Linked DNA regions of Homo sapiens: regions 1 and 3 are each linked to region 2. Evidence: fine-mapped expression QTL. A gene starts in region 2. Each other region holds a variant in brackets. All regions are shown on one strand. Distances are from middle to middle.

Region 1 (6,700 bases), 33 kb before region 2:
ATATGTAAATAAAAATAGTTTTACTCTTCCTTCTCAAACTAGATGTCTTTTATTTCTTTTTCTTGTCTAACTGTCCTTGATAGAATCTGCAGTGCAATGTTGAAAACAAATAGCGGACTGGAAATCCCCCTGACCTTAGGAGGAAAGCATTCATTTTCTCATCACTAAGTATGATGTTAGCTATGGGTTTTGGGTAGATGCCCCTTATCAAATTGAAGAAGTTCCCTTCTATTCCCAGTTTGTTGGGTGCTTTTATTATGAAAAGATGTTGGATTTTGCCAAATGTGTTTTCTGCATCTGTTGAGATGGTCATAGAGTGTCCTCCCTATATTCTATTGATATGGTATATTACATTGAATTTTGGATGTGAAACCAACCCTATGTTCTTGGGATAAATCCCATTTGGTCACGGTGTATAATACTTTTTATAGAGTGTTAGATTTATTGTATTTTATCGAGGACATTTGCATCTATGTGACTTTAGCATTTTATTTTGAGATCAAGATAATATTTATAGAATGAGTTGTGAAGTATTCCCTCCTAGTCTTTCTTTTCTTTTGTTTGGAAAGATTTTGTGAAGGTTTGTTGTTTTTTGTTTTTTGTTTTTTTCTCTTTTTGAGACAAGATCTCACTCTGTCACCCAGGCTGGAGTGCAGTGGCGTGATCTCAGCTCACTGCAACCTCCGCCTTCCAGGTTCAAGTGATTCTCCTGCCTCAGCCTCCTGAGTAGCTGGGATTATAGGCATGTGCCACCACACTGGTGTTTTGTATGTTTGTTTGTAGGTTTGGTGTTAATTCTAGTTAAACCTTTGATATAATTCATCAGTGAAGCCATGTCGCTCTGGCTTTACTTTGTGACAAGTTTTTTGGTTACTGTCTCAGTCTCTTTACATGTTACTGGCCTTACTAAGTGATTTGGGTAGGCTTTGTGTCCCCAACTAAATCTCATCTTGAATTGTAATCCCTATAATCCCCACGTGTCAAGGGAGAGACCAGGTGGAGGTCATTCAATCATGGGGGTGTTTCCCCCCATGCTGTTCTTGTGATAGTGAGTTCTCACAAGATCTGCTGGTTTTATAAGGGGCTCATCCCCCTTTGCTTGGTATTTCTTCCTGCCACCTTGTGAAGAAGGTGCCTTGATTCCCCTTTGCCTTCTGCCACGACTATAAGTTTCCTGAGTCCTCCCCAGCCCTGTTCAACTGTGAGTCGATTAAACCTCTTTCCTTTATAATTTACCGAGTCTCATGAAGTTCTTAATAGCAGTATGAAAATTTAGACTGATACATTTGGATTTTCTATTTCTTCTTGAGTTCGTTTTGGTAGTGTCCTTCTAGGAATCTCTCCATTTCAGTAGGTTATTTCATTTATTGGCATACAGTTGTTCATAATATTCCATTCTGCTACCTCCTTACTGGGACCACGAGCTATTATTATTCAAGGAAGCCATGGAGTTAGGGAGCAGGAATAAGGGACTAGGATAAGTTAAAACAACACAAACCTCACTGGTTTGTGTTTGTTTGTTTGTTTACCAAGATTCATCTGTTTTTCTTGACCAAATGTTCCTAGGGTTACTGAAAACCTTTGGTGGATTTGCAGAGTTCTGAAAGAGTAGATTCTGATAATTTTTGCTAGGTTTTTCATTGCTTTTATGGAGGGATGAACTTCTGGAGGTCCTTACTCCACCACTTTCTGCTGACATCACTCTCGGTGTTTTTGCAAATATCTAGAGCCAGAGCACTGAACCAAATCCCATTTGGTCATGGTGTATAATACTTTGTATAGAGTTCTAGATTCAGTTTACAGTATCTGTGGCTCCCAATCCCATCCCTGCAGCAGGACAGGCTGCAGAATGGGTGGTAAGGTTGTGCAGAGATTTGGGATTTGGGCTCAATCAGACTCTAAGCCTCTCTCAATTTCTAGCCTTCGATGTCCGCTTTTATAGTAAATATTTGTTGAATTGATTAGTACTTGGTAAACTTGTGCTTGAACTTCATTTACAGATTATGTTGCACAAAACACTTGTGGCTGTAGCCTCCTTTCCAGTGCTATATGTGACCCTTGGAGCCCTAAATAAATGTTTCCTCCTTACAGAAAACTGCGGGTCTGCATGAGAGTCCTGGATTCTAGTGTTGAGGATTTCCACATGGATGGGCTGAGTCGGGAGTGGTGAGAGGGTCTAGGCCCTATGGCATTGACTTGTAGCTGCTGTTAAGAACATTTTCGGTGTAAGTTTTCTTAAGCATTCGGCTACCTACATCAGAGAGTCAGCGGTATTCCCTATTCATTTTGGCTCCTCTGGGCTCAGCTTCTCCATGCCCTTTAGCCCCTGGGGCCACCTTTAAAAACTATTTGTTGAACTGATCAGTGTTGGGCAACTTTGGAATTGGACTACATTTACAAATTATACTGTACCCAATGCTTGTCGTCACTTGACTGCCAGGGTGCTTAATGAGTACCTCCTCCTGTTGGGACTTGCTGGGTGAGTGTGTTCCTCAGTGGCGTGTGGGCCTGGTATCTGAATGCCAGTGAGCCCCTCCAAGGCTTTCTCCCACCCTAGTTTGGGAGGATCAGTGCCCTGCTGTCTTTAGTGACGGCTGCCAGCTCTTGCTTTCAGAAGGCAGAAGAAGATACTGCTCAAGCTTTCTGACCTTTCTAGAAAGGTCTTTCAGGGAAATGGGATCAATGCTAAAGATTTCCATGAGTGCTCTGGATCTTTATTGTACTGCTGACCAGGCT[T/C]ACCTTGGTCACAGTTTGGATGCCTACCGCGGGTGTTTATGAATCACAAGTAACTTTGCCAGTCTCTCTGGGTAAAAATGCGGGGTACATGGTGCCTTCCTGGTGGTTGCCACCAGGTCCCTCTGCGTCTGCTCCCCTGGAAGCTGGAGGATTGCCTTTTCTCTAAAATAAGGACCTCTTTTGGGGTGCCTGACCATTTGTTGGCCAGATCCAGAGGATCGGCTCTGCCCTGGTCTGGGTGCCCCACGGTGATGTTTGTGGCAGAGGGTCTCAGAGAAGGGAGCAAAGCAGAATGTGGGCCTGTGTGGCTCCGGTCCTCGGTTTCCTAACTGTTGGCAGGGATCCTAAAGGCGCCAGGTCCTCCCTGTCCTCCTCAGCTGACTCTGCCCTCCTCAGTGTGTCCACGGGCACAGGCTTTCCTCCTGGCAGGTGGCAGCCGGAGACCTCCTGGGTGTCCTGCCGCCACTGTGGACCTCACCTCAGTGCTGTCTGGGGCCTTCCCAGACCAGTCCCCTCCCAGCGGGACCCAACCCCCGCCAGCCTCAGCTTTCAGGAGCTGCCCCCGCGGCGCGAACAATATCCTTTCTATTTGGAGTTGACTCTGCTGCCCTTTGGAGATCCCAGCGCGTAACGTGAGCTCGCGACCAGCGCGGGGGAGGCGCCCACACGCCCGTCCCGTCTTGGTGTCTGGCCCCAGGCGGCCGCGCCTCCCCTCCGAGGTGGTCCCATAGCCCCTGCACCAGGCGGCCCGCGCCCGCGACCTCAAGGCGGCTGCCCCGCGCCATGGCGGCCCGGCTGGGTGCGCTGGCCGCGTCGGGGCTGTACCGGCGGCGCCAGCACCGGCAGAGCCCGCCGCCAGCCACGGGGTAGGTGGCCAGGGGCGGGGCGGGTGGCGGGGACAATGGCCGGAAAGCTGCGGCGGCAGGGCAGGCCTTCCCTCGGAAACCCGACCGGGGCCCTCCGACGCCGTGGGCTCTGCCCCGGCGTCGGATGGGCCCTGGGTTGGCGACAGGGTGGGCGCGTGCGACTTTATCTAACAGGGTTGGATGTCACCTGTGATCAGCTCTCCTGGCAGGGTGCGCCCAGGGACCTATGTTAGAGACGAGGGAGCCTGTGTAGCCCCCAGCACTGCTTTCAGACGGGGGTGATCATGCTGCACTTTATAGATGAGCAGACAGGTTCTGAGCAGAGCAGACACCTGCTGGACTCACCCACCCCAAACATGGCTATGCTGTGATTTGAACCCAGGTTAGACTGACTCCAGCAGTGGGGTTCAGGATGGTCCTCAGGGCATCTCAGAGAATGAGTTGGCTCTGGATGGGGAGGTTGGGAGGGGCACGGGGATGGTGGTGGAGCCACCTCCCCTCACTCTTGGGGTCAGGGGCATGAGGAGGAGCTCCTGAAAATGTTGCCTTTGCAGTGCCGAGGGGCCAGCGGGGAAGAGAGAGCAATAGGGCTGTGACCTTGGGGTCCTTGGCATCAAGGTGACAGATAGGGACCCTGGGGAGGAGGCCAAGGCTGGGCAGAAGGGCTGGGGCGGGGGGGCAGGGAGGGAGCCAGGAACATAAGTCGCAGAGGTAGGGGAGGGCCTGGAGGACCCAGGAGCAGAGGAAGGCCAGTGCCACCCAGGGCAAGCATAGCCCACTCTCAGCTCCTTGTGTGTGGTCAGGGAAGGCTCCCAGAGTGGCAATTAGAGGACTGAGCCATCAAAGATATCTTTTGCTGAGAACAGAAGAGGAAGGAGGGCACCGAGTGGAGGGCGGGAACTGCAGGCCGGCAGCACGGCCATCTGTGGAGTCCCTGCTGCATGCTGGGCTCCCGCTTGTGCTGGCATGGCAGGTCTGGGGCAGCCTGCTGTTCAGGTGGGGACCCCCAGACTCAGGAGGCCAAGTCACTCACCTGAGTGTGGCAGAGCTGGAGCAGGCACCCTCCCTGGTCAACCTCTGGACAGCCCTGGATGCGTGTGGCATAACTGTGGTACCAGGCTGCGAGTGGCCAGGGCACTGATGGCCCCAAGGCTGTTCTGGAGTGATTTTCACAGTACTGATACCACAGCTGAGATGCAGGCAGGACAGGCACGATGATGACAGGCCTGGGGCAGCCCTGAGCATGCATGCGCATGTGACTATTCACACTGTTTTTCTTTGAACTTCTGGTTCATGTCCTTTGTCAGTTCTTTGTTGTTAGTGTAACATGTTTCAGTTGTACCTGCTTAAAAGAAAAGCCACTAGAGCAAAGAGATATGGCAAGGGCTTCAAAAAAGCTCTAATTTCAGACAGGTTTCATACTGATTTGGAGTCTGTTTCTGATGGTGTCAATGCATCTTGTGTATAGCAGCCCAGGCAGCATGTTAATTTTTTCTTTTTTATTTTATTATTATTAGACTTTAAGTTTTAGGGTACATGTGCACAACCTGCAGGTTTGTTCCATATGTATACATGTGCCATGTTGGTTTGCTGCACCCATTAACTCGTCATTTAGCATTAGGTATATCTCCTAATGCTATCCCTCCCCCCACCCCCCACCCCCCACCCCCCACCCCACAAGAGCCTCTGGTGTGTGATGTTCCCCTTCCTGTGTCCATGTGTTCTCAATGTTCAATTCCCACCTACGAGTGAGAACAGGCAGCATGTTAATTTTCTAGCGTCCCCATGGTGGGCTGGCTTTTTGTACATTTTTGTTGACCTCATGTGGCCAGGTGACCCGACACTGGCCTCTGGCTGGCTTCATGGAGGCGGGGCAGGGAGGAAGCCCAGGCAGTGCTGAGGGACTGGAGCTGCTCCCTGGGCTGTGCTGCAGTAGGGTCCCTCCCCGAAACCCTCTGCATCTGGAATAGTGCCTATCAGTGCAGGTGCTCAGTGAGGACTTCGTTGGAAGGAGGACAGAAGCATGGGCTGTGCTTGCAGGAATGGCCTCACTGAACCCTCCCAACAGTCCCTGGAGGTAGCTATTCCTGGCCCATTTTATAAACGAGGAAGTTGAGGTTCAGAGTCCTGTGCTGCAGGTCACACAGACAGGGGGCGTCGGGGCCAGGGTTGCAGCCTGGTGTGCCTGGCTATAGGGGACACACCCTTGGTCTGACTGCTGCTCAGGCCGACGTGGCCTCAGCAACACTTGCTCATCTTGGGTGTGACCAGACTTCTTGTGGCTGGCCCCCAACTCTTCCCAGATCCTTACACACACTTCCTTGACTCAGATATCAGGAAGGCTGGGATGGAGGAAGGTCTGGGGTTGTTGAAGAAACAGAATCCGGAATGGGGGATGCCAAGAGGAGATGGGAGGAACATGAGTCCAATCCTCTGTGACCCTCAGCTGGTTACTGACTCTCTCTGTGCTTCAATCTCCTTATCTGGAACCAGCCTCCTCCCCTTATACAAAGGCCTGGAACAGAGCAGGCTCCTCTGATCCCACCTCAGACTCAGGGACATCTTGCAACAAATTGGCTTGTATTGGCTGTCAAAACTGAGAGCCTTCTGGGGTGCTGGAGAGGGCTGAGGAAGGGCATGAGATGGTGTGCTCTCCCCCACCTCTGGGGTTTGGCTTCCAGGCTGGGTGTGCCCTGGGCAGTATGTTCTACGTAGTCCAGCTGGGGGTGGGTAGTGGTGTCTCCTGGGGGATAACTGGACAGACTCTGTGCTCTCTATCTTGAAGGAATGTGCAAAGGAGGACATGGAATGTCCACGTCTCTGACCCTCTGACCTCTCGCAGGGACCGCAGGCAGCCTGCAGGCCTTCCCCTAGGCTGAGCCATGCAGAGGGACTCTGGAAGGCTCCCAGAGTTGCTGGAAAACAACAGTTCTCCTTATCCAGCGCTTTGCCCTGCCTGGCCTGGTGCTCTGTGCTGGACACGTGGGTGCCATTCATTCACTTTGGCTCCTCGATGTGGCTGTTTCTCTGGTGCACCTCTTTACAAAAGAGAACGTGAGGCCTACAGAAGCGAGCATCTCTCTCCAGGTCCCAGGCTG
Region 2 (6,464 bases):
AAAGAAGAAGTCTCCCTCCTTCTGGCTGATGACCTGGGGAAGGGGAAGGTACAGGGAAGTTGGGTGGCTTCCGGGGACTGTCCTCCTGAGAACCTGCTGGGTTCTGGTCCAGTGGCCGCCTACGGCCTGGGTGCTGCGCTGGAGTCGGCTGTGCGTGGGCTATTGGCGTGTGGAGCTGGCTCTGCTCCAGGACCCCACCTACCTCTGTCCCAGCAGCCCTGGCCGTGCAGCCTGGTCCAGCATGGGTGCCCCTGGTAGGCTGAGGCCCCCACAGGCAGCACCTAGGGCCTCGCTCACTGCCCGTCCGCCCACCGTCTGCCCAGCCCCAGCCCGGCCCACCTTGTCTGAAATCTTGATGAAGAGGCTGCAGCCCTCCCAGGAGGCCAGCTGCAGCCTGGTGGCAATGCTGTCACACACATCCCGCACCCGTGTGTTGGCAACCACCTCCAGCATCTGGACAGAGAGGCAGCTGGTGAGGCCCGGGGCCTGGCTAGGGGCCAGTACAGCCCAGGATGAGCCTTCCTAGCCTGGCACTTTTGCTCCTTCATGAAACTTGGGTTGGATGTGGTCTGCCCTGAGCAGGGCAAGCCTCCCTTCCAGAACCCTGGCCAGAGGTTCATGTTGTTTAGTCCCAGCATTCGCTGTCCTGGGGCCCTGCAGGCCTGGCCTTTTGACTCGCCTTGAGAGCCCAGCAGCCAGACTGTGGGAACTTCCTGTTACCGGGACCCGAATATCAAGGCCAAAAAGACCATTGTGCTGTTGGAGAGGGCGCGAGGCGACACTGCCCACTTTGGCCTCTCAGCCCGCTTGTCTTTGCTGCCCCTGATCAAGGCCTCTGTGTCACGGTGGGGTCCTGGTGGTCTCCTACCTGCCCCCTGGCCCCTTTGTTCCCCCAGCAGCCATGGCAGGCTCTGTGCACAAGGCACACACAGTGGGAATACCTGCTCTCCTGCACCCCAGATGGTCAGAAGCCCCTAGGGGCCCCCAAGTCCTGGGACTCACCCTTGCTGCCCACCCCTCTGTCCTCTCCTGTGTCCTGGGCCTGGATCCCCCAACTCATACCTTGGGACTGGCCTGACTTCCAAAGCACCCAAGGGCAGGTGGGGCCTGCATCCCATGGGGAGAGGGCGGGAGACTGGTTAGGATGGGACAGCCCTAGAAAAGGCTCTCTGGGGTTACCAAGGAGCAGGCTGGGCCAGGAAGGAGGATGCCCCATGGCCTCTGGAGGCCTGAGACTTGCCGTGCAGACCAGAGCAGGGCCTCACCTCACTGGTGTCATTGGGGAAGTAGATCTTGTGGCAGATGCGGGAGACGTTCTGCTCTGCGGCCTCCACCTCCACCTGGTGCGGGGGCTGCTTCCGGGGCCCCGTCCTGAGGGGGACAGCGTGTGCTGCAGGTGCCACCCCCACCCTCATCCTCACCCATGCCCCAGCCCCGATGTGGGCCCTAAACCATGTGCCAGAAACAAAAGAAAACCCCAGTGACCATCACTGGGGTGGTTCCAGCCCCTCGCATGTCCTGGGGGCTGCCCCTGGCTCCACGCGGCCTCAGAGGTAGTGATGGTGCAGCTGTGCCTGAAAGCCTGGGGCACACACGGGGAAGGGCCAGGCCAGGGGCTCCCGGGAAGGCGCCGGCAGGAAAGGCTGGCAGTATTCTTATTCTCGCACAACAGGGGCATCGGGCAGGGGCCAGGGACTCTGGCAGGGCCTCTATGGGGCGCCCACCTCTCTCTGTGACCACGGCTGCCACTGAAATTATGGCCACTCCTACAGTCAACCTGCCCTCCTCACGGCCACAGGAGGCCAAGCCAGAGGAGGCAGGAGGGGTGGGGGAGAGCAAAGACGGCCAAGGAAGAGCTTCACGGCTGTGGGCGGATGAGGGAGGCCGCATGGACTTGGAAGGATGGGCCTCTGACCTCAGCCTTGAGGGCCTGGGCTGGGGCATCCAGGTTTCTCTCTATCCCTCAGGCAGTGCCTCTGTGCCACTGCTGGGCAGTGGTGGGGCAGGGGAGCTGGTGGCTATGACTGAGCCTTCTCTTGACCCTCCTGGGCCTCACCCTCCACCCTCTTCTCTGGCAGCTCGGGGCCCAATCCTGCCTGCCAAGCTGACACTGGCTTCTGGAGAGTCCTCCCAGGACCATGAGCTCCTGGAAGGCTGGCCAGGCCCCACAGCATCCCAGGTCTGCGGGCCCAGGGCCAATGCTGGGGGCTGGAGGCACTGGGCTCACCTCAGGACCTTCTGGATTCGGCGGCTGCAGTCGGGGGCCAGCAGCTTCCCCCTCCGAGTGTCTATAAACTTCTGGGCATGGGGCAGCAGCCCCTTGCTGGGCGGGAAGAGGCCCGTGCACAGCCACAGCAGCTGCCAGCCCCGCTCTTCGCTGTGCCTGAAGGGTAGCACTTGTCAGCCGGGAAAGGCCCCTCAGGGGGCCCTGGCCAGGCAGGCACCTTGGGGAGCAGGGACGGATGTGAGAGCTGCCTGGGGTCTAGAGGGCCCGAGGGGGAGGGCACCTGCCAGGCTGCACCATGCCAGCTGTGCCAGGCTGCCCGATGCCACGGGCTTTCACACCCTCAAGATGGGGGCGGGTGGGCATTGCACCCATTTTGTGGAAGACGACACTGAAGCTCAGAGAGGTCATGGCCTGCCAGGTCACACACAGAGGGTGGGAGTGGGCAGGGCCATCCTCTCCTGCTCTGACCACCCCTAGGACATCAGCAGAGCAGACCAAGGGCCCAACCCTTCCCACTGCTGAGGCAGGAGCCCAGGCAGGGGTTCTGCCGCCACCAGCTGCGGTGTCCTCTCTGAGCCTCGGTCTGGCCTCAGGGGCCGGGATGAGGACTGAGGGTGCCCGCGTGGGCTGGCCGCCGCCCCAGCAGACCTGTTGGAGTTGTGCGTCAGCTGCTTCAGGATCTGGCAGTAGACCTCGTCCTGGAGGGCCGGGTGCTGCAGGGCCAGTGTGAAGATCTGGTCGGTGAGCTCCAGGGTGGGCCAGGCCTGCCGAGAAGGGTAGTCGCCCATGTACCGGAGGATGGGTGTGGCTGTCAAGGAGCACAGTGCTGGGGCAGCCCCACGCTGACACAGACTGGGGATAGACGCTGACCCCGACCCCGGCCCTGCGGTGAGCCATGTGTGGGCTCTGTCCCGCCACTCCAGGTTTCTCAGATCTCCTGGGCTCTCCTGCCCTAGAGCACAGCTGTAGGGCCAGGATGTGCTGGGTGCCTCTGCCCTGGCATTGACGAGGTGCAGGCAGGCTGGTGGGGAAGGATATCGACAAAGATCTGGCAGGCGATGTCCCAGAGGTCGACGTTGGCGTGGACTCGCTTGAGCAGCGGCTGTCGCAGCGGCTCGCAGGAATAGGCCCACAGGTGGCCACGGGCACGGGCCAGGGGCAGCACGGCCATGCTCACCATGTCCTTCTCTGGAGCCCTGTGAGGTTAGAGGCTGGTGTGAGGCCTGCCCTGTGGCCTTCTCTGTCCCACGCTTCTCTGTCCTCTGACACCCCTGAGTGGCTGTGGGAGGGCCAGAGCACCCCACCCTGCCGCAAGCCCCTCCTGACTCCCCTGGCCTGGGAAGGCCAGGCAGGCTCCACATGGGTGGCGTGGCCTCTCTGCAGCTCTCAGTGGGTGCAATGAGGTGGAGCGGGGCTGGGAGCAGGGGGTGCAATGAGGTGAGGTGGGGCTGGGAGGTGGGGGTGCAATGAGGCGGAGCGGGGCTGGGGGGCACCTGAAGAACTCATAGGAGAACTCCTCCAGGGTGTGCAGCTTTTCCTTGGGTGGCTCCTCAGGACGTGGCTCTGTGAACTGCCCCTCCTGAGCCGCCAGCTTCCTCTTCTCTGGTGACATGGCAAGCAAGCTCTGAAGGGGGCACAGGCCTGTGGGTGCCCAGGAGCCACCGCCCATGAGGCCCTTCCTGCAGGCTCCTCCCGGCCTGGCAGCCTCAGTGACTTGGGAGGGGTCAGGCCCAGGGCTGAACAGGCCAGGGCTTACCCACACCCCTGTCACCTGCCGTGTGACCCAGGACCATGACTCTACCTCTTGGTGCCTGTCTCCTTTCCCTTGGGAGGGTGAGTGCCAATGGCTGTGGCACCCACATCACCCGTTCTGGGGGCCACGGCACTCTGGGTTTCTCAGACCCCCAGCTCCCCAGCTCCCCTTCTCCATGGGGCCACCTCTCACCCCAGCCCTGCCTGCCTAGTCTGCCACCAACTTCAGGCCTCAGCACAAATGTCCCTCCCTCGGGGATGCCTTCCCAGACAGGGTAAGTTCCCCACCCTATTATTTGTTCCTCTCCTTGGTGGCACTTTGCACAGTTGCCATCCATGTGTCATTATCTGCCCAAATGTCTGCCCTGAGGGTGGAGCTGCTATTATGCCCAGACTCGTACCACAGGCACAGGGCACATACTCAGCACTCAGTATGTACATGTTGCAATGCCTGCCATTCCTGCCTCCGGAGAGGCTGGTCTTGGGGGCTGGGGTGGGTGGTTCCCTTGTGCAGGGAGAGACTTGAGTCCCCCTGGGTCAGAGTGTAAATGAGGCAGAGAAAGATTGGGTTTGTCCCCCGGACACCCCCATGATGGAAGAGGGAGGGAACACCCATTTATTGAGGACCTACTAAGTACCAAGAGCTGGGCTGGCACTGCACACACACCTTGCCGCAGGAATGGTGGGGGCTGCCCGGGTGGCCCTCCTGGCCTCTGCTAGGTGGGCTGCAGGCCCTGAGCTAGGCCTCCCAACTAGGCATCCCAGGACTGCTCCACCCTGACCTCGGGTACCCAGGCTGAGGACAGGGGAGCGTGCCAGTTACCAGCAGCTGTGCCGAGGGCTTAGTGACCGTGGGGATGGTGTAGAGGCAGGCCATGGGCACCAGCCCCGTCTTGCCTGTCCTGTCGTTCTGGCCGAGGGTCCAGTTCTCAGAGGCCAGCAGCCCCTGCTTCTTTGTGAGGACCAACAGGTCCCCCTTCTTGAAGGCCAGGAGGGTGGTGTCATCTGTAAGGGCAGGGAGGCTATTTGCTGAGGGCTCTGCAGGGGCCAGAGGCTGTGCTGGAATTTTGTGGGTCATCTCCTTTGACAGATGAAACCGAGGCATAGAGTGGTGGGCAGAAGACCACTCCAAGAGTGAGCGATGGTGGGACTGGAACCTCAGGGGCCTCAGACGGCTGTCACCTGCTGCAGCTGCACAGGCACAGAGCCCAGGGTGGGTGGGGGCTCGAGAGCTCTGACTGCAGCCCTAGCCCTGGGAGACCCTCGGAGGGCTGACCAGGAGCCAGGGATGAGGGAGGGGAGGATGCACAGGCTGGCAGTCCCCACGCCTGGCCTGAGTGCTGCCTGCCTCTCTAGACCCCTTCCTTATCTGGAATTTGGAGATGGCAATCCTCTTTCCCTCCTGCGGTGGCCGTGAGGACTGAATGGGGCGATAGGGCAGCACATCTCGGCTGACATTTCTCACTGCCCAAAGACCCCACACACAGCCTCTTCTGCTACATCCCAACCAGCACCCCCTTCTGAAGTCCCTGCACTAACCACACCACCCACCGCCCATGACCACCCGGCCAGCAGGCTGGCCCAGCGGGGGTCCTGGGGCTTTGCCATGCTCCCCCATAGCCCACAGACACAGCCCAGCTCTCGATGGAGTGCTGGCTTGTGGGAGAGCTGTGGCCAAGAACTAGGCTCCCACCCCCTTGAGCTGTGTGACCCTGGGTGAGCTACTTCCATCTCTGGGCCTCTGGCCTCACGTCTGTAAAATGGGATAATGGGGTGCTTTTGCAGCAGTGCGCTGTGGGGATGGTGTTCAAAACTTCCCTGGGCTGGGGGCTGGCCTTTCTCAGTGCTTCTGCAGCAGTGCAGCGCTGAGCATGGCTGGCCTATGCAGGGCTGGAGACCACCTCCTTTAGCCCCTCATTTTGTAGAAGAGGAAGCAGTGGCTGAAAGAAGGCAGGGCCTTGCCTAAAGCTGCCCCCACAGAGCTTTGGGGCCTTCCCTCCCTCTGCTTGCCTTGTGGCTGCTGTGTGGAGATGAGCATGCCACCTACCTACAGACCCCATGCGCGGCCCTCCCCCACCCCACCCCACCCCACCCCACCCCACCCAGTCTGGCACCTGTGGCCTTCCTGTCCTGCAGGGCCATGGCGAAAATGGACCTCTCCTTCAGGCCCTCCAGGAACAGGGCCACCAGCTCAGCGATGGCCACACTGCTGGGTGACACAAACTCGTACTCCTCATGCATCGTGGAGAGCAGCAGCCTCTGCCCGCCCTGGGCCTCCCTGGAGATGAAGGACAGCGTGACCAGGAGCCCCCTCCACCTTCCCCTGATCCAGCCCCTAAACAGCCTCGGGAGGTGGGGTTGGGGGTCCTGAGTCACAGATGAGGACACAGAGCTGCTCTGCCAGGGCCAGGACTAGGCCAGACACCACTGTGGGTCTGGACAAATGAAGGACGGCGGAGCACAGGACCTCTCGGAGGCTGAGAGT
Region 3 (6,700 bases), 54 kb after region 2:
CAAAGCACTAATGGAGCTCCAGCTGTAAGCCAGGCCTGGCTCTATTGCAACCGTCTCCTGACTGGCCTCCCAGCTTCCAGTTCCTCCTCTTCAACCAACGTCCAGCTTAGGACGTGCCAGGCTGGTGGGGGACGGGACCTTTGGGTGTCTTTGTTTTTGCTTTTTTTCTTTTTTAAACTGAAAAAAATTGGAGATAAAATATACAGATAAAGAAGTGCATAAAACACAAAGCTGTGTTGTAAAGAATAAAGTCAGCACCACGTAACCACGCTAAAGCCAAATCTAGGATCTGCCAGCACCCACAGCCCTCCGAGGTCCTTGCGGGCTGAGACTGTGTCCCTCTCCTCCGGAGGTAAGCACCCTCCCGACTTCTAACTTCCTAGCTTTTTATTCCCTACATAGAGTCCCTAAACAGCATTTAATGTGCCGGCTTTTAAATGTTATGTTAGTGGGCCAGGCGCAGTGGCTTGTGTCTGTAATCCCAGCACTTTGGGAGGCTGAAGCAGAAGGATCACCTGAGGTTGGGAGTTCGAGACCAGCCTGACCAATATGGTGAAACCCCATCTTTACTAAAAATACAAAATTAGCCAGGCTGTGGTGGCAGACCCCTGTAATCCCAGCTACTCAGGAGGCTGAGGTGGGAGAATCGCTTGAACCTGGGAGGTGGAGTTTGCAGTGAGTCGAGATCCCACCACTGCACTCCAGCCTGGACAACAAAGCAAGACCCTGTCTCAAAAACAAACAAACAAACAAACAAACAAATGTTATGTTAGTGGATCTGTCTGCATTCTCTTGTGCCTGCTTCACTTCCTCAGCATCATGTTTCTGATGCTGTCCCAGGCCCCGGTGCCCACCTCTGGTTAGCACCCACCTTTCCCTGGCCGAAGTGTGCAGTCTGGCTGATAGACGACAGATCAGCCCAGCTGCAGCTTGCCTGGAAGCAATATTCTCACATGGCGTGAGATGGTGGCCCAAGCTTTTGTTTTCTATATGGACACCCCATTGCTCTAGAACAGTTTATGAAAAGTCTATCCCTTCCCATTGCTTTGAGAATGGTCTCTCCTTAGTTCTGGAACCAGCCCTATCTCTTCAAATATTGCCTCTGCCCCTTTCTCTCTCCTTTCCTTTAGGACTCCAATGAAAGGTGTGCTCCCTCTGCCACGGTGTCCTCCCAGTCTCCACCTTCTCTCTGACATCTCCCGCCATTCCTCTCTCCATGCTGTACTCAGTTTCTCCTGACTTTCCCTCCAGCTCACACATTCCATCTCCTAGACAGGCACAGAATCCCTTAAACCATCCATTGGGTTCTTCCTTTTGGTTATTTTTTTTTTTAATTTTAGAATGGAATTTCTATGTGGTTTGTTTATAAATCTATAATGTCTTTAAAGTTTCCCATTCGCTGTCTAAATTTTCAAGCTTGGCTGCTTCTTTTCTTGAGCAAAATAAGCAGAACTTCTCTAGTCTGTGTCTAATAATTCCAACTTTGAAATCTTTGTGGATCGATTTCTACTGTTTATTATTTCTGCCGGTTCTTGTTCATGGTATCTCATTTCCTTGTTCCTATTTCTTCCTGGCTTCATGCTGGATGTTGTGTTTGAAAAACTACTCACAGGAATCATTTGTAATCTAACTTGCTGGTGCTTTTTTCCAGCGAGGACTGTCAATAACTGCCGTTAGGTGCTTGGGGGTGTTCACAGGTCAGGACAACTTAATCCCCAGACCACCCCTTGCTCACAACCTGGTTTGCAAGTTCACACGTGGATTTGTTTACTCTGGCTTACCTGAACCTTAAGGGGGAAGCCCTTTTGGGTCCCAGCTAAAAGTGGGGGATGATTGGCCGGTCTCCACCTGTGGAGAGCCTTAAGCTTTGACATTTTCCCCTTTGCCTCACGAGGCCTCCAAAATCACAGCTGAATTTTTTAGATATATTTTTCCAGGCCTGGGTTGGACCACAGGATCCTTCCTGTGAGAACCCCTAGAGATGCCTTCCTGCTCCTGTCCCCTTCCCTCTCCCTCCCCAAGGGTGCAGTTGGGGCAGAACCGGCATTACCCATGAACCCCACATTCCCCAGGTGGAGAATGGCAGCCAGCAGCTTGATGACGTCCCAGCTCTCGGAGTCGGAGAACTGGAGGATCTTCATGGCCGAGCGGATGTGGGCGTAGTCCTTGGCGTCGTTGAGCCCCTCACAGGAAGTGCAGTTCCCCTGAGGGACAGGGTGCCTCAGTGAATGGGGCCATCCCCTGCCCCACCACCTCCCTCCTGGGACCAGCAAGGCTGAGACACTGCACTTCATAGGCAATGGGTGGACCACGTAGGGTCCACGCTCAAAAACTCTTTTCAGAGGCAGAATCATGACACAGTAGCCACAGCATGATCAGGCCTTGCCACCAGCACCAGCATTTGGCCACTGTGTGACCTTGGCCAAGTCACACTTCTTCTCTGATCCTCTATTTGTCGTTCGTCCCTACTCGAGCTTGCCTTGTCTCTCTGGGGGACACTGTGGGTTTGTTCCTTTAAGAAACACTTTCCATGGCTCGCCATGGGCCAGGCCCTGTGCTGCGCATCCAGGGGGGCAGGCAGGGAGCCAGTGACCGTGCCATGGCCATTTGCCTGTTACAGGTGCCCAGACCACAGGGGCCGGGGCCAGCCCTATCGAGAGGTGGAGAAAGGCTTCTTGGAGGAGGTGCAGAGCTGGCCCCACCGCCTCTGAGGACAGAGGGCAGTTTAGGCAGAGGATGATGGGAGCAAGGCCACGAGGTGGGGAGGCAGGGACAGGGCTGCGGGGAGGCTGGGGTGGGTGTTGAGAAGGGAGAGGTCGGCAGAGGGGCAGATCTTGGAGGGACCTGGAAACCACATGGAGGAGTTTGGACTTCTACCCTACAAGCCGCAGGGGTCACTGCAGCAGTGCCATCCAAAGCATGACACTACAGTGCAAACCTTCCTACAGGAAGAGTGCTTTGGCTGCAGGGTAGATGACAGATTAGAGGTCAAGACTGGCGATGGGGGACCCATGAAGTCTAGGCAGGGGCTGGTGAAGGCCTTGGAGCAGTGGACCCAGGA[G/C]AGAGGGTTGCATGGGAGAGATCCCAGAGGCAGAATGCTCTGGGTCCACTCTGTGGTCAATAAACCAGGAGGCGCAGTTCTCCTGAGGGCCAGGGAGCCTCAGCTAATGAGCGATGGCTGTGGTGCCGCCCTGTCCTAGGTGGCGGGTGCAGCTGGGAGCACAGGAAGGGCTTTGCTTTCCTGGGGCCCGGGGCTTACGTTTTAGGGGGCCTGCAAGGACAGACAATTGGAGTGAAATCAGGAGCAGGAGGCATGTGGGCAACTCCCTGTGGCCCACTGGGCACCGGGAGCCTGTCATCCAGTGGGGACCAAAGGAAGATGAGGTCTGCGGGGAGGCCCCGGGTCCAGCCTGGGGCATGGGGTACATGTGACGGGGAAGCGGGAGGCACGCGGGCAAGGTGATTCCCAGCAGAGAGGGGCTGGCGAGGAGAGGCAAAGGGAACCAGCCCCGCCTCAGGGGCCCGGCCAGCGTTGGGCTTCTCTGCAGCTGTCGCGGAGGGTGGAGCGGCACAAGCTCTTTTTCCTCCCTTCCACTGGCTACTGGGAGGCGGCAGGTGGGCAGCTCACCATGGTCAGGTAGTGGTACTCGGAGGGCGTGCCCAGGCTCAGCAGCTGCTTGTCCTCAGCACTCACCCCCATGAGCATGCAGTAGAAGATATGGTAGTTCCGCTCCTCGGGAGCCTGGGAGGGAGGGAGGGCATTCCAGACAGATTCATGAGCCATTCCCCTGAGGCCTCAGGGCCTCAGACTGCCTCTGCCCAGCCCAGCCCTGGCCTCCGCTCCACATCTCTCAGCCAGGAGCAGCTCTGGCACTGACCCAGGGCCAGCCTGGCTTGGTTGCTGTCCCTGTCCCGGGCCTCCGCGGCTGTCTCATCCCTGCCCTGAGAACTCCATTTCCCTGCATCTTGACTGCTCCTCGAAGCCCTGACACTGCTGTGCCCAAAGTCTCCAGGCCAGGAGTGATGGCACAGAGTCGGGGCTCTCTTATAGTCCCACAGTCTTCACAGGCACTTAGTGGCCCACGAGAGATCTGACAGCCACGGGGCTCCCTAGGCCTTCAGTATTTTTTTTTTTTCCGAGAGAAGGTCTTGCTCTGTCACCCAAGCTAGAGTGCAGTGGTGCAATCTCAGCCCACTGTAGCCTCGAAGTCCTGGATTCAAGCCATCCTCCCACCTCAGCCTACCAAGTAGCTAAGATCACAGGCACACACCACCACGTCCGGCTAAGTTTTGTATTTTTTGTAGAGATGGGGTTTTGCCATGTTGCCTAGGGTGCCTTCTGTATTTTTTAAAACACTATTTATAAATGCATTCTCATACAAATCAAACAATCTGAAGCATATGCAGTAGTGTTAAAAGATGGGAGTCTCAGTTGGGCTGTAATCCCAGCAGTTTTGGGAGGCTGAGGCGGGAAGATTACTTGAGCTCAGGAGTTTGAGAGCAGCCTGGGCAATATAGTGAGACCTCACCTCTACAAAAAATAAGAAAATTAGCTGGATGTGGTGGTAAACACCTCTAGTCTCAGCTACTCAAAAGGCTGAGGTGGGAGGATCAAAAACAAAAAAATGAGAGCTCCTTTCCATCCTGCCTTCCCCTTTCTTAAATCCCCTCCTCCCCGCCCCAGAACCTAGACATGTTTTTAAAAAAACATTTACTTATAGTATATCTATAAATAGTTATCTCTTTTCTTTTCTTTGTTTCTTTTTTTTTACACAAAACATATTTGTGGTTCTGCTACTTCCTTTTTTTTCACCTAAACATATCTCTTGGTGATCCTTTACATTGACATGGACAGACCGCCTCCTCTGTAGTATAGATATGCCGTAATTTTAAATTCTTTCTCTTTTCTTGGGCAGGCCTTGTTTCTCACCTGCTTTAGAAATTTCCTGCCCATTTCAGGGTATCATTTTGGGTGACAAGTTCTATGAACTCAGCAACCACTATATCAAGAAATAGGAGCTTCCAGACAGGGCAGAGAGACTCTGCCATCTGCTGGCTCTGTGACCCTGGACAAGGGGCCGAACTTAACTGGACTCAGTTTTCTCATCTGTACAATAGGGATAAAGAGACCTACCTCTCATGGTTGTGAAGGTCAAATGAGATAAAACAGGAAAAGTATAGCACCAGGTCGGAGGGTCACTAAATGTGACCTTCCTTCTCAGCTTGTCACAGTGCGGAGGCATCTGTCCCTCTCACACAGCCACAGCCCCTCTGTTGGTGGCATTCTCCCCTCTGGACCCCTTCTGTGTGTGTGCACTCATTTGCACACATGCATGTGTTAGGTGTTATGCCATCATACGAGAGCACCCCCTTACACTCACACACACACACAGGTGCATTAATTCTGCTGTTGTGGGTGCCATGTGTTGGGATTCCTACCATTTGGGACTGGCTACATGATCGCCCAGTGCAAAAGGAAACCATGGGCCCTCTTGCTAAAAAGCTAGTAAGAATTTCAAGGTGGCAATAGCAGAGCATGAAACCAAGCATGGGGCCCCCTGAGCACAGGGCCTGGTGTGACAACACAGGCCACATGCCACTGTACTTCCTGGCCATGTGGTATTTGGGATACTGTCATCTGTGTCTTTCTGCCATGTCCCCTAACATACCTGAAGATACGGCCCACCCAACTAGCCTAGTCTCAGAATTAATTCTAGTAGGGATGAGGAATGGTAGGCACCAAAGAAAGAAGAAATGTATGTGAATGGAAAATTCAAAATGGAGAAAAGTCTTTTTTGAGACAGAGTTTCACTCTGTTGCCCAGGCTGGAGTGCAGTGGTGCAATCTCAGCTCACTGCAACCTCTGCCTCCTAGGCTCAAGCAATTCTCATGCCTCAGCTTCCCAAGTAGCTGGGATTACAGGCGTGTGCCACTGCCTAGCTAATTTTTTTTTTCATATTTTTTGTAGAGGCAGGGTTTTGTCATGTTGGCCAGGCTGATCTCAAACTCCTGGCCTCAAGTAACCCACCCGCTTTGGCCTCCCATAAGTGCTGGGATTAGAGGCGTGCGCCACCAAGCCCTGCTCAAAATGGAAAAATTTCTATCATTTGCTGTCCTGGAATACTGGGGAAGGGCCCTCATTATCCAGTGAGGCCTGTGGGTTCTGGGAGGGCCCTTGGGGAAGAGGGGAGGAGAGGTGAGAGTGGGAAAGGGGCCCCTCTTGGAAACCTCCCCCATTCCCTCAACTCCCGACCTGGGAAGGGGGAGGCCTCACCTGCCGGCAGACCCGGGACTTCTCCAGGAGAAATTGCTCGATGCGCGCGCCCTCGATCACCCCGCTGGGGTTAAAGTAGATGTCAATGTACTTCCCAAAGCGGCTTGAGTTGTCGTTGCGGATTGTCTTGGCATTTCCAAAGGCTGAAGGTAAGCGGGCGATGCCCATGATGGGAGCAGAGAGGAGAAAATGTAATTTGAGTGGGATCATGTAAGAGGGCTTCTCAGAGGAGGTGGCCAAGCCTCGAATTGAAGAATGGGCACGGCTGCACCAGACAGTGACGGAAGCCAAGCGCCCGCTAAGAGGAAGACAAAAATGCAGGGAAAACCTCGGAGGTCAGAAAAAGCATGGAGTGTGCTTGCAGACGCAGAAATCTTGTCAGAGTGTGGGATGCAGGAGGAAAGCAGTGGAAGGTAGACAGAACTA

Direction of the effects. Alleles are on the strand shown, and positions count from the first base shown. SD is a standard deviation of normalised expression in the study named. Not every link is listed here.
For the expression in visceral fat of the gene that starts at base 3,845 in region 2, allele C in region 1 goes with a lower level than allele T (small effect, 0.24 SD a copy in GTEx).

What was found. PIP is the estimated chance that this variant, and not a neighbour inherited with it, causes the effect. A credible set is the group of variants that fine-mapping cannot tell apart.
Region 1: its variant is the best candidate, but not a certain one, in a credible set for the expression of MYO7B-AS1 in visceral fat (GTEx, PIP 0.76).
Region 3: its variant is the best candidate, but not a certain one, in a credible set for the expression of MYO7B-AS1 in subcutaneous fat (GTEx, PIP 0.56).

The regions. Positions count from the first base shown.
Region 1 is chr2:127,661,208-127,667,907 of GRCh38, reverse strand. The region is part of intron 1 of LIMS2 (LIM zinc finger domain containing 2); the gene reads left to right. Among named protein-coding and RNA genes, the nearest start is that of LIMS2, 11 kb to the left of the region's middle. RefSeq lists enhancers at 4,004-4,543, 4,544-5,084, 5,122-6,119. The variant T/C (reference allele first, on the strand shown) is at 2,737.
Region 2 is chr2:127,628,165-127,634,628 of GRCh38, reverse strand. It overlaps MYO7B-AS1 (MYO7B antisense RNA 1), which reads left to right and starts at 3,845. Exons shown (of 3, transcript XR_923314.3): 1 at 3,845-4,254; 2 at 5,070-5,192; 3 at 6,116-6,464. MYO7B (myosin VIIB) reads right to left here. Exons shown (of 48, transcript NM_001393586.1): 34 at 6,094-6,257; 35 at 4,803-4,984; 36 at 3,721-3,851; 37 at 3,266-3,423; 38 at 2,876-3,029; 39 at 2,228-2,383; 40 at 1,266-1,371; 41 at 340-453; 42 at 1-33. RefSeq lists an enhancer at 1,073-1,302 and silencers at 1,573-1,622, 1,723-1,812.
Region 3 is chr2:127,573,637-127,580,336 of GRCh38, reverse strand. MYO7B (myosin VIIB) reads right to left here. Exons shown (of 48, transcript NM_001393586.1): 7 at 6,275-6,417; 8 at 3,629-3,742; 9 at 2,051-2,204. Among named protein-coding and RNA genes, the nearest start is that of MYO7B, 41 kb to the right of the region's middle. RefSeq lists enhancers at 2,082-2,131, 2,180-2,733. The variant G/C (reference allele first, on the strand shown) is at 3,062.